Linked DNA regions of Homo sapiens: region 1 is linked to region 2. Evidence: fine-mapped expression QTL. A gene starts in region 2. The other region holds a variant in brackets. All regions are shown on one strand. Distances are from middle to middle.

Region 1 (8,332 bases), 970 kb after region 2:
GGTAAGTGGAGTTGAGGGAAGGAAGAGGAACTAGAACGTCATTAGGAGAGGGAGCAGGAGCTATAGACATGGACATCGTTGAGAACAGGGGCTGGGGAAAGGAATTAGCTGGGGAACAAGGAAAGAAGGACAGGGGCTGGGGGATGTCCATCCACTCTTTCACTAAGTTGTGTGCAGTGGTAATGGTAGTCAAGCACTCAGCTCAGGCACTTTTCCTCCTGCTGCAGGAGTTAGGCCAGGGAGCTGATGTTGGGGATGAGGGTTCTGGGTGGGAGTGGAAGTGCCTGCCAGAGCCTCACCTTCAGCCTGCCCAGCCGAGCCTTCAGTCTTGGATGGTGTTGTCAATTTTTTCCTCCTCTGCTTCTTCACCATGGGAGAAGGAGGGGGTTCCCGACTCAGGGGGCTCAGGTCTCCAGATGGGGTACAGTCTTAGGGAGGAAGACACAGCTGCCTCAGTAGCCCCCTCCACAGATTTCCTGATTTCTTGATAGCCTGTCTCATTCCCTGAACTAGCTTTGGCATTTTAGGGCTCCCCTCCTCAACTGTCCCTCTCCAGGAGTTCCCCCTTGATCATTCCTGGGGATGCAGGGAGATGAGAGGTTTAGAGTCAGTCCTGCACTCAGATCCTGGTTCTGCCACTTACTGGCCTTAAGACCTTGAGCAAGGCACTTAATCTTCTGAGCCTCAGTTTCTTTATCTCTGAAATAGGGGTAATAATCTTGACCTGACAAAACTGTTGTAAGGATCATTTGTTTACAATGTTATTTGCATACTATATATATATATTTTTTTTCAAACATGTCAAACATGGCTGACTATGTACTAGACAATATTCTCAGTTTGTTTAAACCTCAAAGCAACCCTCTGAGGTAGAAACTATTATCTCCATGTTACAGATGAGGAAACTGAGGCACGGAGAGGTCAAGTAACTTGCCCATGTGGCAAGCCAGGATTCAAGCTCAGGCAGTTGACGTTAGAGTCCACTTGTCTTAACCATTATGATAGACATGGTATGATTGAACTTATTCATGTGTGGGGCTCCATGTGTTCACTCATGCATTTATTCCAGCCTCCAAGCCTTCACCCCATATTCATTTCCCACACTCATCCTATTTGGGTGTGGAAGACAGCAGATGGAAGGTCATCCCCACTGACCCGTGCTGAGGGCTCGGGCCAAATTCCGGTCTGGCTTCAGCAGGTGTTTGGATGTCTGATCTGGTGGTGGCTGCAGGGAACTGGGGCTGGGGCTAGGGCTTGGCATGGGAGTAGTGGCTTCTGTCGGAAGAAGATGAAACCTCAGTGAGCCTCTTTCTTCTGGCCCCATTCCTTATGTGGTCCCTCTTTATCACCCAGCTTCCTACTCGCCCAGTGCCAGCCCCCTCTTCCCTCTTACCCCTCTTTTTCCCCAGCCCTGGCCCCTCTTCTGCTCCTATGTCATAAACCTTACTCACCCAGGCCTTCACCCATCTGGACAGTGCTCATGTCCTTGACGAGCCCGTTAATGCTGGCTGAGGGGCCAAAGGCAGAGATGGCCCTCGGGGGCCGCTTGCCCGGGACTTTGACTGTTGTTCGCAGCAAGTCCATCTCCTTGCCGTGGGTACTGTGGATGTAATCCTGGAGGGGTACAGGGCCGAGAGTGTAGGGAAGGTTGGGGTCCTTGGTATGCTGGGAAGCAGTCAACATGGTACAGAATAGAGAGGGACTGGGGAGGGGTCTTGGGGGCCAAATGGGTTGTGATGAACATCTAGGGGATGGGCCCATCAGACTTGGCCCAGCAATTGTCTCCTCCAGAAAGCGTTCCCTTCCTGGGTGCTCTCCCACTAGACTGCAAGTTCCTGGGGCAATGTATTTACCTTTACATTCCTGGCATGGGCACATGGTGGGCTCTTAACACATGCCTGCTAAACTTAAGAGAAGAGGACTAGCACTTCCTAGAAATGAGGTTAGTGCTTTGTCAGAGGCATAGACAGGTAGAACTTGAGGGAAATCCAAAGCTGGCCAATGTGGCCCAGTCTCTGCCACTCACGTTAATACTGGGGTGGTAGAGTAGAAAGCCATTACTGGACAGGGTTACATATTTCTTCTTCCATTCTTTGTTCAAGGAATTGCCACTTCGTTTTAGTAGGAAGCTCTGGAGAAAGGGGAAAGACACATGTGGGAAAAAAGCCAACTAAGACCAGCTGCCCCTAGCCTGTCCCAGCCCCTGGATCACTCACCTGTTTGATGGGGATGGCTCGCCCACTCCCTGTTGTCTCTCCCCGACTATCCAAGCTTCGTTTCTCGGAGTCACTACCCCGACGATTCTGGAATGGTTATTGGAATCAGTTTGAGGATGGATAGAGGGATACACTGATGTGACGATAGGGAAGATAGATGAAGAAGGGCCCAACAGAGGAGTCTAGGGACTAGGGAAGATGGGCAGGTCATGGGGGACAGGAGGATGGGGGTCAGCATGTCCATGTCCAATACCGCAAAAAGGCTGGTCCTGCGCTTGGCTGCCCGGTGCAGGGACCCTGGGGTGCTCAATCCAGCCACTGCAGCTGCCTCGGCTCGGAGCTCCCGGTGACCAACATTCGGTGAGGACGGGAGGGAAGAAGAGTAGTCGCTAGTGTGGCCCCCGTTACTAGCCTGGGCACATATGGAAGAGTCAGCAGAGCTGAGATGCCCCCTACTCCACCAAGCTACACTCATATCTCGTTATGGGGAATTTGAGACATTCCTTGATCACCTCACCATTTATTTATGTTGTCATTAATAATTTTTAAAATCCTCACTAACATTGTGACAATGCTTTAAATGTTGTAAAGGTTGATTCACAAGTATTGTGTCATACAATCTTCCTGATAGCCTTGGGAGGTTAGGTGAGTTGCTTAAGGACACTGCAAATGATGTCTCAAATCTGGTTGATTTCCAGTCCAATGCACTTTCTGCCAATAGTTTCACTGCCATTTCCATCTGTTTCCCCACTCCCTGAACCTCCTTGGGTACTCTGTACCTGTCCTAGGATCCCCAGCCCCTCTGCATCTTACCGGCCCCTCTGCAGACTCTGAAACCCCAACTCACCTGGCCAGCTACCGGAGTGGATGCAGCTGAGTGGCTTGGGGAGCTGGGCAGGGACTTGCAGGCAGCCAGAAGCTGTTGCTGCTTGCGCAAGGTCACCACCTTCTGGGCCACTGAGGGGAGTTGACGGAAGGAGGTGTGAGCAGGCCAGATACCCAAGACCACCCTTCCATGCCCAGCTTTGAGAAATCCCCAGTAGACAACACAGGACCCAACTTCCTTGTCACTGTGGCCTCCATGCCACCTGTGGCCTTGCCAGCTCCTCCAGCCCAGAAAGACCTTGCGACTATTAAGCAAACCTTCTCTGGCCTCCCTGATCTCTCCTCCCTCCCACAAAGGCTAATTTCCTGTCACTCACAGAGAGAGGCCTGGATGCCTGACCACTGAGAATATCCCAGGCCCCTTGCTCTGGCTTCCCACATATGCTGGAGATCACTACACTCACCCTCCTGGAAGACCCGATCCACATTGAGCCCATAGGTTGCACAAGTCTCATAGTAGCTGCAGCGTTTCATGTCCGCGCACAGAGCTCTGGCACGAGCATCTCCCACCACCCGAGGGGAGGAAGCACTGATCCTGTCTGAGGGGACAGGAAAGGGGCAGGATTGAACAAGGAGCCCCACCTTGTTCGATTTTTCACAATTCCCTTATCCTTGCACTGGGCCCTCAGGCTGGGTCCACTGGGGATGGGGTGTGAGAGATCATCTTTTCTGTGACCAGGTGGAATGGGAGTACATAAGCCCTTTCTGAGTACTGGGCCCAGTTCACACACCTAGCTGGGTGAGCTGTGTGTGTGTGTGTGTGTGTGTGTGTGTCCTCAAGGAATACTCCAGAGCTGCTGAGTGGTGCTTCCTGACAAGGTCTACATAGCTGAGACCCAGGCGCGAGCGACAATCACCCTGCCCTGCAAATCCATAGAACCCTGAACTGGTGGGAGGACACCAGCTTGTGAACTAGGAAAAGGTTGGGTGCCCATGGGTCATGGCTGGACTGCCCACTCTGCAGCAAGAAACCAGGATGCAAGCAACAGGTGGAGATAGGCACCAGCAGAACAGGCATCCAGACCAAGTCCCACCAGCTCGACACAGGGGAGTGCTGGAAAAGCATTTCCTGGCCCTGGCAGAGTCTGGGAGCCTCTGAGTCACTTCTCTGAGAACTAAAAGGTTTTCTGCTCTCTTCTTTTCATCATCATTTCCTTTGTGTTTTCACTTTGTTTTT[G/A]GATAAGTTCCTTTAAAAGGTGTCAGCCTTACCCAGCTGTCGCAAAAAGGAAGATGGAAAAGGTTTCCTATCCACCCTAGGACTTGAGATTTTCTGTGTCCTAGGATGGTGGCACTAGGAAATGGCAGTGTCAGAACACAAGGTAGGTGACATTTCAGGAGAGGCAAGGAGATGGCTACTATAGCTGTCCTTTCCTCCCTGGAGATCCCCTTTTCTCTGCTCAGACCTTGGGAAGTTATTGTTTGGTTTCATGACTCCCTTATTTGGAGACCAGGCTCCCTCCAGAAGGGTACTATAATCCAAGTGGCCATTTCCACACCTTACCAAGTTCTCACCCATGTTGGGCAATATCCCAGTAGCCTCCTTAGGGCCTCCCTTGAAAGCAGTGCTTTCCTAACCCCTCCTTACCTTGTGTCCCCACCAGTGCCAAGGCCAGGCCTCCTCGTCCCTCCCCGCGAAGGGAACTCAGCTGCCCATGGAGACGGCTCACAGCCTGGAAACTGTTCTCATCCTCCAGGCTGAAGACGAAGATCACAGCATCTGCCCAGCCTGAGAACTTGCGGGGAGTGAGGGAGCAAATGGAAAGTCAGACAGGTCTACTCCTCTGGACCCAATCCAGATGAAGACCTGGGAAACCAGAGCCCTCTCCTTTGGCCAGTGCTGACCCCAGCCAGCCTGTCCCCCACCACCTCCACCCTCACCTTGGCATCAGGTGCCCCAGCTTCCTCTCGGATTAGCACCAGATGTGTCTGTCCATCCACCAACATTTCTTTCTTGTACTGCTCACCTGTCCAGAAGAGTTGGAAGGGGTAACAGGTCAGAGGTGACAGGTCACCAAACCTCCCCATGCTCCCAGTGCTTTTGCTATTATGGCCTCATCCTTCCCCCCTGGTCTCCACACCTGCCTAATCATTGATCTCACTCCTGGATCCCTGACCCCAATGGTTAGCTTACTATGGCTCTTCAGAACTCACTCTCTGTCTTCTCCAGCACCTGGTATGAGCCAGTCAGGAATCGGTGGATGAGCGATGACTTCCCACTCCTGGCATCGCCCAGCACACCCTGAGGGCAAGGTTGTGGAGCAGAAATTGTGGGATATAAGAGAAGGCAGGATGCATGGGTCTGGACACTCCAGAAAACCCAGAGAGATAAGTCATCCAAGCAGGACCCTACAGGGCCTGGATGACAGTCATTCCAGAGAGAGCAGTTGGGAGGATCAGAGCAGCTGGGGGGATCAGAGCAGTTGGGAGGATCAGGGCATGAGTGTGGTAAGAAATGATCCCAAGCTCAAAGTGGAGCACGAGCTGAAGAATGTCAGCAATTCAGTACCAGCTTTTTTGTGTGTTGGGTTGTTTAGAAAACATACTAGATATGTTGTGTGTGTGTGTCTCTGTGTGTGTGTGTTTGTAGCATGTCACAGCTCTAGGCACTAGTTGGAAAACTTTACCCAATTCTAGGCAGTACAACATGAAGGCCAAAGGGCAGATACCAGAAATGAGAAGCCTGGAGGAGGACCATGAACAAACAGGAAAAAGGGGATGGCTGCATAAAGACTAGATAGGAAAAACTTGTGAGGAGGCTGTAGCAAACCCCATGTTGGTGCTATGAAGGCAGACTCTCAGGAGAACTGGAAAACGATTCCCTATTCCCAAAGAGAGAGAGAGAGAGAAGGAGAGGTGAAGGGAGAGAGCTGAGAGTGCAGTGGGTGGGAGGTCAGCCTTCCCTATAGGCAAGGGGACTGGGTTACCTACCAGGCGCAGTTCAGGAATGGAGCGGCTCAAAGTCCATTCCTGGCTATTGATCACAGCCTCTGTAACGGGAGAAGGGCAGTAAGAGGGGAGGCTCCTGGCTCAGAAGGACCCCCAACACTGAGCCACCCCTCCTCCCTCTGCAGCTTTCCAACCCCCCCCCAACCCTGCCTGCACTGGAGAGGTGTGTGCAACAGACAGGTTTGAGGGTGGTCCCCAGGCCTCCCATCCCAGCCACTCTCCCCCAGCTGTTGCTGCCGCTCAGTGGTTGCTTAGCAACGGAGCTAGCAAGACAAAAATACTTCAGTTGGCATCTCCCTTAAAGCACATCCCCAAACGCGGGTCCTGGCCCCAGACAGGGAGACCAGGGCTCTGACAGTGGCAGGTTCTTCCCTCTGGAAAAAGAATAGAAGAGGAGCTCCTCCCTAACCCACTGGTTCCCAGGGCAGACCCTGGGAGGAGGTGCTGAAACACAGAAGAGAGTGTGTCTTCCCCAACCTCCATTCCACAGGAGAGAAACTGAGGTGAGGGGTTTCCCTCCCCTTCTTCAAGGTCAACGGCACTGTAGCCCTGGACCCCTCCCCACAGCCCAAGGGAAAGAGCTAGGATTTTCCTATGCCTCCATCTCCCACACCCTCCCCACAAACGCCCTCCAAAAGAACTGTGGGGAAGGGCTCCATCGCCTGGCCGAGAGAAGCCACAGGCCCGGGGGAAAGGATGCTCCTTCCGCCAGCCAGGTCCAGCCCCCGCGCCTGACACCGGCCGGACGTTCCCGGGGCGCCGCAGCTGCGGCGGGAACTCTGGGATCCGGAGCCATCTGCTCCCACCCGCTCCGGAGCCAAACCCCGGGGGCCGCCTCCGCTCCCGGACCCGCCTCCTCTCCCGGGAGTGTGAGCCGAACCAAGAGTCTCCTGCCTATCTCCTCCAGTAGGAAAATAGTAATAATAATAGACACCCTGCCCCCGTAAAAAACACTACCTTCCCCGTACCGCCTCCCAAGTCTCCCGGGGTACGGATTGCCTTTGCAGCAGTTCCGCCCCACCTGACTCACTCCAGGGTCAGCCCCGGGTGGGTTTCAATGCGGCTCTGGGGAGGGGGTGGGCAGTGGGGGAAGTGAGGCTTCCTATCCGCCCCCTCTCACTTCACATTTAAATATTCTGCACGTTCCAGCCCCCGCGGACTCGCGTACCGCCCAATCCGCCTTCACCGCACGAAAAACATCACTAGCCTGCTCTCAGCCCAGGGGACGACTAGTCCCTGGCGAGAAGCTGCCTGCAAGGTCACTGTCATGCCACCTGCCCCAAGTGCTCAGGGGAAACTGAGGCTTCCTCATCCCCTTCACCTTCAACGTCGCTCTAAACACGGCAAAGCCCCGTTTCCATGCTCCCAGAGTTCAGCTGAGGCTGGAAGTGGGGTCCTGGGCTTCTCTGGGAGCAATTTTCTAGTCACTCTGATCAAGGACGTTACTTTCCCAGAAAGCTCTGAGGCTGAGTCCCTCTGAAATCAAGTCCTTTCTCCTGTCGCACAATGTAGCTACTCGCCCCGCTTCAGGACTCCTATTCTTTGCCCCAATCCTTGACAGAGGGGTGAGCTTGGTTCATCCGCCCACCCCAGAGAAAAGCTTCCCTAGTTTCCTGGACCTCGCTCCTCCACCCCAAGCTGAGCATTCCAGGTACCCTTCCCTCCCTGTTCTCAAGCCCTGACTCAACTCACTAGGGGAAGCGCGGAGCTCGGCGCCCAGCAGCTCCCTGGACCCGCTGCCAGAAGACAGGCTGGGGGGTCCGGGAAGGGGCCCGGAGCCAGGAGGCCCTCCTGTGCTCTTGGTGAAGATGCCGCTGATAAACTTGAGCATCTTGCGGTCACGAGTGGATGCTCGGCCCCCCTCCCGGCCCCGTTTCAGCCCCGGAGCTGGAGGCTCCAGAGTGATTGGAGGTGCAGGCCCGGGGGGCTGCGCGGAAGCAGCGGTGACAGCAGTGGCTGGACTCGGAGTTGGTGGGAGGGTTAGCGGAGGAGGAGAGCCGGCAGGCGGTCCCGGATGCAAGTCACTGTTGTCCAAGGTCTTACTCTTGCCTTTCCGAGGGGACAACTTCCCTCGGGCTCCAGCCCCAGCCCCGACCCCACCAGAGGTCGAAGCTGTAGAGCCCCCTCCCCCGGCGGCGGCGGCGGTGGCGGCGGCAGAGACCGAAGCTCCAGTCCCGGCGCTGCTCTTTGACCCCTTGACCCTGGGCTTGCCCTCGCTTTCGGGCCATGACAGGCGGCTACCCGCGCCCTTGCCCCCGCCGGCTTTGGCTCCACTCGTGGTCACG
Region 2 (8,332 bases):
ACCATTCCTGGCTCATTGAAGGGTTTTAAGCAGAGTAGAAACATAATCAGAGTTGTGTTTTGTTTGTTTGTTTGTTTATTTATGAGACAGGGTCTCTGTCATCCAAGCTGGAGTGCAGTGGCATGATCATGGCTCACTGCAGCTTCAACCTTCCCAGGCTCAGGTGATCCTCCCACCTCGGCCTCCCGAGTAGCTGGGATTATGGGCATGTGCCACCACACCCGGCTAATTTTTGTATTTTGTGTAGAGACGGGGTTTTGCAATATTGGCCAAGCTGGTCTCGAACTCCTAGGCTCAAGTGATCTTCCCACCTCGGCCTTCCAAAGTGCTGGGATTACAGGTGTGAGCCACCGCCCCCGGCCTCAGAGTTGTGTTTTATAAATAAACTCTGGAGCCCTGTAGAGGGCAAATAGGAGGGTAGAGAGAAACCAGAGGTGGAGCAATCCTAGCAGACTGTTGCCGGAAACCAGGTGAGAAATACTGATGGCCTGAGCTAAGGCAGTAAAGTGGAGATGGAAGGGATGGGATGGACATAATGACTTTAAGGAGGTAGAATTAATATTGATTGGACATGGGGGATGAGGAAGGGGTCTAGGATGATTCCCAGGTTTCAGACTTGGGCAACTGGATGGAAGGGAGTTGCCTGGCATCTATTAAGCACTTATTAAATTTGTTGAATACATATGCAGATAGGAAATAACATGAAAATGAGGAGGACCAGATTGCAGTGAATCATCATCATTTTAGTTTTGAATGTGTTGAGTTTGAGGTACTGTTGTGATTCTCCCTAAGTACGATTTTACTACGGGGTCGTACTGTGACTCGTCACATTTAATATAAGACAAAAAATGAGCAAAAGATTTGAATAGGCATTTCACCAGAGAAGACAAACAAATAGCCAATAAGCACATGAAAGGATGCTCAACATCATTAATCATTAGGGAAATGCAAATCAAAACCACAGTGAGATATCAATCCATACCAACTAGGATGGCTAAAATAAAAAAGATAATATGGCCAGGCACGGTGGCTCATGCCTGTAATCCCAGCACTTTGGGAGGCCGAGGTGAGTGGATCACTTGAGGTCAGGAGTTTGAGACCAGCCTGGTCAACATGGCGAAAACTCGTCTCTACTAAAAATACAAAAATTAGCTGGGTGTGGTGGCATGCACCTGTAATCCCAGCTACTCAGGAGGCTGAGGCAGGAGAATCACTTGAACCCAGGAGGAAGAGGTTGCAGTAAGGTGAGATTGCACCACTGTCCTCCAGCCTGGGTGACAGAGTGAGACTCCCTCTCAAAAAAAAAAAAAAAAAAAAAAAGATAATAAGTGTTGGTGAGCATGTGGAGAATTTGGAACCCTCATATGAAGCTGGTGAGATTGTAAAATGGTGCAGCCTCTTTGGAAAACAGTTTGGGAATTCCTCAAAATGTTAAAAATAGAGTTATCATTTGACCCAGCAATTTCACTCTTAGGGTACATATATCCAAGAGAATTGAAGGCCCATGTCCACACAAAAAATCTGTATGTAAATATTCGTTTCAGCATTATTCATAATAACACAAAAAAGCAGAAACAACCCAAATGTTTATCAGTTGATGGATGCATAAACAAAACGTGGAATAGCCACACAATGGAATATGATTCAGACATTAAAATGAAGTACTGATAAATAGATGAACCTTGAAAACATTATGCTAAACAGAAGAAGCCAGTCACAAAGGTCACATATTGTGTGATTCCATTTATATGAAGTGTCCAGAATAGGCAAATCCACAAACATGGAAAGTAGATTACTGGTTGCCAGGAGTGGGGTGTGGGAGGAAAGAATGGGAGGTGACTGCTAAGGAGTATGGGGTTCTTTTGGGATAATAAAAGTATTCTGAAACTAGATAGTGATGATTGTTGCACAACCTTGTGAATATACTAAAACCCATTGAATCGTACACTTCAAAAGAGTGAATGGTATGATATGTGAATTATGCCTCAATAAAGCTGTTACTTAAAAAAAAAATATATATATATATATATACACACACACACACACACACACACACACACACACACAACCCTAGGTCCAGGGCTCAAGCTATGAAACAGCTGCAGTTCTTTCAGAAAGGTGACTGAGCCAGCCCCAGCTTGCAGCAGCTGATCTCAGGTTGGCAGTCTTAAGAAGTGGGCTTTGCTAAAATCAACCTGCCCTCTGACCCCATTCCAGCAGGGGATTTGCATTGTAATATTCCAGTTTAAATTAGAGGATGGGACCAGGCACGGTGGTACACGCCTGTAATCCTAGAACTTTAGGAAGCTGAGGCAGGCAGATCGTTTGAGCCCAGGAGTTCGAGACCAGTGTGGGCAAGCTGGTGAAACCCCATCTCTACAAAAAACAAACAAACAAACAAACAAACAAAAAAACTCAAAATTAGTTGGGCATGGTGGCGTGCACCTTTAGTCCCAGCTACTCTGGAGGCTGAGGTGGGAGGATCACTTGAGCCTGGGAGGTCGAGGCTGCAGTGAGCCCAGATTGTGCTACTGCACTCCAGCCTGAGTGACAGAGGGAAACCCTGTCTCAGTAATTAAATAGAGGGCTGGGTGCGTCAGCTCATGTGTAATCCCAGCACTTTGGGAAGTCAAGGCAGGTGGATCACTTGAGGCCAGGAGCTCGAGACCAGCCTGGCCAACTTGGTAAAACCCCATCTCTACTAAAAATACAAAAATTTTTACAGGCGCCTGTAACCCCAGCTACTCCAGAGGCTGAGGCAGGAGAATTGCTTGAACCCGGGAGGTGGAGGTTGCAGTGAGCCGAGATCATGCCACTGCACTCCAGCCTGGGTGACAGAGCGAGACTCTGTCTCAAAAAAAAAAAAAAAAAATTAGAGGATGGGGGCTGAGGAGCATACAAGACTCTCTGGTCAGGGCAGCTCTTTTCTTTCTTTCTGTTTTTCATTTTGGTAGTAACAGATCTGATTCTGCAGCTGATCAAGGATGACACTGGTGAGAACCCTATGAGGGAGTGAAGCAGCCTGGACTCTTACCACAAGAGGGAGGTGTTATAAGAGCAATGCAGAGGTTGGAGTGGGCAGCAGTTGGGGCAGGAGGAAGCCGACTGCTGCCTGGTCTGCAAAGAAGTCCTTTCAAGTCTCTAGGACTGGACTCTTCCTAAGCAAGTCCGGTATGTAGGTGGGTAAGGGTGGTTGTGTGTGTGTGTGTGTGTGTGTGTGTGTGTGTGTGTGTGTGTGTAGGGGATATGGGATATGGTCTGTTTGGAGACAGGTTTTGATTATGATTTTTTATCATCTTAAAAGATCCTTCAACTTTGATTCGTGAAAGAAATTTTGTCACGATTGCTTGCTCTGCTTTTTTGATCTTTACTCCCATGAAGTTTGGGAGAGTACTGGTTACAAGTTGGGAGTGATTTCATACTTACAAATAGGGACTCTGGGTATCCTCTGAAAACGGGATTCTCGGCAGTGGGGGAAACAAGCTCTTTAATGGTTAATGCTGATAGCTGTTGGGTAAGTTTGTGAAACTTTGGGTAAGCGGAAAGGGGCCTTCTGTGATTGGGCCAAGATCCCAGAACTCTGAGAGGTTGAGGAGTGAGGATCCCTTGAACTCAGGAGTTTGGGACCAGCCTGGGCAACATGATGAAACCCTGTCTCTACAAAAAATACAAAAAATTAGCTAGGTGTGGTGGTGCACACCTGTGGTCCCAGCCACTTGGGAGGCTGAGGTGGGAGGATCACCTGAGCCCAGGAGGTCGAGGCTACAGTGAGCTGTGATTGCACCACTGCACTCCAGCCTACATGACAGAGTGAGACCGTGTCTCAAAAAAAAAAAAAAAAAAAAAAGAAGAAAGAAAAAAAGAAAAAAAAAAGAAAATCAAAAAGAAAAGAAAAAACAATTATTGACTTGAGGAATACTTAGCCTGTATGCCCAAGTGGGAAGAAAAGAATGTCATGGTGGATCAGTTCAGGGAGCCATGTGCTGTTTACAGACTTGCTCTTAGGATCAGTGACTAAGCTGACTGGAGTTTATAGACAAACCCATGTCTGAAGATTTTAACCAAAGAAGGGAATAAAGGCTACTTCTTACTTTGCCATGTATTATATTGCAGAGAGAGAGGTCCTCGCTTGAGACAGAAGGAAGTTAAGGTGCACGAGCATGGCCCAAAATAGTGATAAAGAGCTGATAGAAATGATTAAGGATGTTGCAATATGTGGAGTTATGCATACTGTAGAAAAGTGGTGGTGTAATGCACCAGATAATGCACATTCCCATGGCACAGTTTCCTTCTATGAAAGCTCAGGGGAAGAGACAGGGCTCAGGGAGAAAGGCAATATGGCAATAATAAGACAACAACTACCCAAAATAATACTAATATCTAACAATTATGTATTGCTTTACATGCATTAACTTATTTAACCCTCTCAATAAATCACTGAGGTTTCTTTTTCCCATTTTGAACACGAGCACACAGGAACAGAGGCCAGTTCACTTACTCAAGGCTGCAGAACAAGTAAATCTCGAAGCCTGATTTTGAACCCAGGCCATCTGGCCTCAGAGTCTATGCTCATGATTCTATTTTTTATTTTTTTCTTTTGAGAGAGAGTCTCACTCTGTCTTCCAGGCTGGAGTGCAGTGGCATGATCTCAGCTCATTGCGGCCTCTGCCTCCCAGGTTCAAGCTATTCTCCTGCCTCAGCCTCCTGAGTAGCTGGGATTCCAGGCGCCCGCCATCACACCTGACTAATTTTTGTATTTTTAGTAGAGACGAGGTTTCGCTATGTTGGCCAGGCTGGTCTTGAACTCCTGGCCTCAAGTGATCTGCCTGCCTCGCATCCCAAAGTTCTGGGATTAAAAGCATGAGCCACCATGCCTGGCCTCATGATTCTATTTAAGAAAATTTTTTTTTAGGCTGGGTGCGGTGGCTCACGCCTGTAATCCCAGCACTTTGGGAGGCTGAGGCAGGCGGATCACGAGGTCAGGAGTTTGAGACCAGCCTGGGCAATATGGTAAAACCTTGTCTTTACTAAAAAATACAAAAATTAGCCGGGCATGGTGTTGCATGCCTGTAGTCCCAGCTACTCAGGAGGCTAAGGCCGGAGGATCGCTGGAACCTGGGAGGCAGAGGTTGCAGTGAGCTGAGATCACGCCACTGCACTCCAGCCTGGCGACAGAGCAAGATTCCGTCTCAAAACAAACAACAACAAAAACAAAAACACACACACAAAAAACCAATCCTTTTTTTTCTTATTATCTATTTATTAATTTTTCCAAACAGGGTGTTGCTCTGTTGCCCAGGATAGAGTGCGGTAGTGCAATCATGGCTCACTGCAACCTCGACCTCCCAGGCTAAAGTGATTCCCACCCCCTCCCCCCACCGTGTCAGCCTCCAGAGTAGCTGGGACTACAGGCACTCCCCACCATGCCTGCCTAGTTTTTGTATTTTTTGTAGAGATGGGATTTTGCCATGTTGCTCAGGCTGGTCTCGAACTCCTCAAGGAATTCGCCTACCTCAGCCTTCTAAAGTATTGGGATTACAAGTGTGAGCCACTGTGCCCAGCCTCATGATTCTATACTATCCACAAAATCAGGGTTGGGGCAGGAAAGCTCATGCAGAGAGGTTCTTGGAAAGAAAGAAAAGGAAAGGTGTCAGGCCTCTGAGCCCAAGCTAAGCCATCACATCCCCTGTGACCTGCATGTATACATCCAGATGGCCTGAAGCAACTGAAGATCCACAAAAGAAGTGAAAATAGCCTCAACTGATGACATTCCACCACTGTGATTTGTTCCTGCCCCACATTAACTGAGTGATTAACTTCGTGAAATTCCTTCTCCTGGCTCAGAAGCTCCCCCACTGAGCACCTTATGACCCCCACCCCTGCCTGCAAGAGAAAAACCCCCTTTAAATGTAATTTTCCGCTACCCACCCAAATCCTATAAAATGACCCCACCCCATCTCCCTTTGCTGACTCTCTTTTCGGACTCAGCCCGCCTGCACCCAGGTGAAATAAACAGCCTTGTTGCTCACACAAAGCCTGTTTGGTGATCTCTTCACTGGGACGCGTGTGACAAAAGGTAGTCGGAATCATCCAGAGTAGTCTTGTTGGTATCTCCATTTATTAGTGCTCTGTACTTGCCATGTTCCAGGTCTTTGCTCTCACTATTCCCTTTGCCTGAAATGCCCTGGTTCCCAATCTCTGCATGTCAAATACCATCTGTCCTCCAAGGCTCAGCAAATCATACTTCCTTCATTTTAAAGCTCTTTGGTTTTGATGGAACATAGGCAGTGTGAGAAAGAGGAGGGGGAGAAAAGGTCAAGATCCAATCATGGAGGGCCTTGTACAACTAAGGTTTTAGATTTAGATTTTCAGTAGGTTGAATGCTATTCAGGGAGTGACATCGGCAGAGCTGCGCTTTAGGGAAATTAACCAGACAGCCCTATGTGGATGAGAGGGGAAGTGAGAGTGACACTGTGGGGTTAGTGAGAAAGCTTCTGTGATAGGCCAATCAAGAGGCATTGAGGAGTCCTTGCATTTAGGGTAGAGAAGGGAGAGGAGGAGCTGGGAGGGGTGAAGGGGAAGGGACGCTGTCTGTGACTGCTGTAGGAGAACGGGAGTAGAGCATCTCAGAAGTGAACGGAGAAGCGTGTGCTTCAAATTGGGTAGTCAGAAGGATTAAACTATGGCTTCTGGCTGTGAGAGACAGGAGCCAAGGGGCAAACGTAGGCCATGGCCTGACCATGAAAAATCAGCTAATTTTTGTATTTTTAGTAGAGATAGGGCTTAGTCATGTTGCCCAGGCTGGTCTTGAAAGGGAAAGGCAGTGTAGTGCAGTGGTTAGATGCAAGGCTTCTGCAGGTGAACACTCTGGAGTTGATCCTGTCTCTACTATTCACTCTGTTTCACCTTGGAAAAGTCACTTAATTCTTGCCTTAATCTGTGCTTCAGTTTCCTCATGTGAAAAGTGGGCATAATAATTGCATACACTGCCAGGCGCGGTGGCTCACGCCTGTAATCCCAGCACTTTGGGAGGCTGAGGTGGGAGGATCACGAGGTCAGGAGATCGAGACCATCCTGCCTAACACGGTGAAACTCTGTCTCCACTAAAAAATAAAAAAAAAAAATTAGCCGGGCGTGGTGGCAGGCGCCTGTAGTCCCAGCTACTCGGGAGGCTGAGGCAGGAGAATGGCGTGAACCTGGGAGGCAGAGCTTGCAGTGAGCCGAGATCGCGCTACTGCACTCCAGCCCGGGGACAGAGCGAGACTCCCTCTCAAAACAAAACAAAACGAAAACAAAAAAAAAACAAAAACAAAATAATTGCATATACCCTCTATTGTGTATATATATTATATATATACACATACATATATTAATATATAACATATATATTATATTAATATATTATATATATTATATATATAGTGTATATATTATATATACACAATAGAGGGTATATTATATATACACATATATACACACATATATAATATATATGTATTATATATACGTATATATATGTGTATATATTGTGTATATTATGTATATATAATATATATGTGTGTATATATAATATATATGTGTGTATATATGTGTATATATAAAAATATATGTGTGTGTATACGTGTATATATACACGTATATACACATATATATACAATGTATACACACACGTATACAATATACACACACACACATATATATGTGTGAAACCATGTGTGTGTGTGTGTGTATATTGTGTATATATATATATGGTTTCACACAGTGCCTGGCAAGGAAAGTTCTCTATAACTGTTCACTATTATTATCGTGTGTCAAGCTGAGGAGTTCTGACTTTATCCTGTGGGTGACAGGGAGTCACAGACAGAATCCAATGAGAGCATGGCACGATCTGAAAGCAATCTTCTTCTTCTTCACTGAAGGCCAGGTTAGGATCTAAGAATCAGATAAAATCATAAGAAAAAAGAATGTGCTAAATATTGCAGTGAGGTCTGAGGAGAAGAGAGAGGAAGCCTTGGGAATTGTCTGCTAATAGGTCCTTGGTGAGCTGTGAGAGAGTTTCCAGAGAGTGATGGGAATGGAAGGTGAAGTGCAAGGAGCTCGTGGGTGGCAAGAAAATAGAGGGCCTGTGCTTGCCCTTTGAATATTTTGGCCATATGGGGAAGAGAGAGGATGGTTATTAAAGGGGTGGCAGGTTAGGATGGTCTTAGGGAGGATGAAAGGCAGAAGAAAGAGGATAGAAGACAATACAGAGAAATTTAGAGCAGAGGTAGCCTCACTGGGCCCTGGAACCCCCTGAGATGACAGGCAAAATGTTGTGGGTAGGAATTAGAGT

Evidence for each region.
Region 1: its variant is fine-mapped to the expression of HSD17B6 in minor salivary gland (GTEx, PIP above 0.99).

Annotation. Positions count from the first base shown.
Region 1 is chr12:57,729,340-57,737,671 of GRCh38, forward strand. It overlaps AGAP2 (ArfGAP with GTPase domain, ankyrin repeat and PH domain 2), which reads right to left. Exons shown (of 19, transcript NM_001122772.3): 1 at 7,740-8,332; 2 at 6,030-6,088; 3 at 5,253-5,340; 4 at 4,980-5,065; 5 at 4,687-4,834; 6 at 3,506-3,640; 7 at 3,064-3,173; 8 at 2,470-2,628; 9 at 2,217-2,303; 10 at 2,027-2,131; 11 at 1,452-1,614; 12 at 1,156-1,275; 13 at 300-428. Among named protein-coding and RNA genes, the nearest start is that of AGAP2, 5.2 kb to the right of the region's middle. RefSeq lists an enhancer at 4,291-5,490. The variant G/A (reference allele first, on the strand shown) is at 4,279.
Region 2 is chr12:56,760,244-56,768,575 of GRCh38, forward strand. It overlaps HSD17B6 (hydroxysteroid 17-beta dehydrogenase 6), which reads left to right and starts at 3,081. Exons shown (of 5, transcript NM_003725.4): 1 at 3,081-3,171.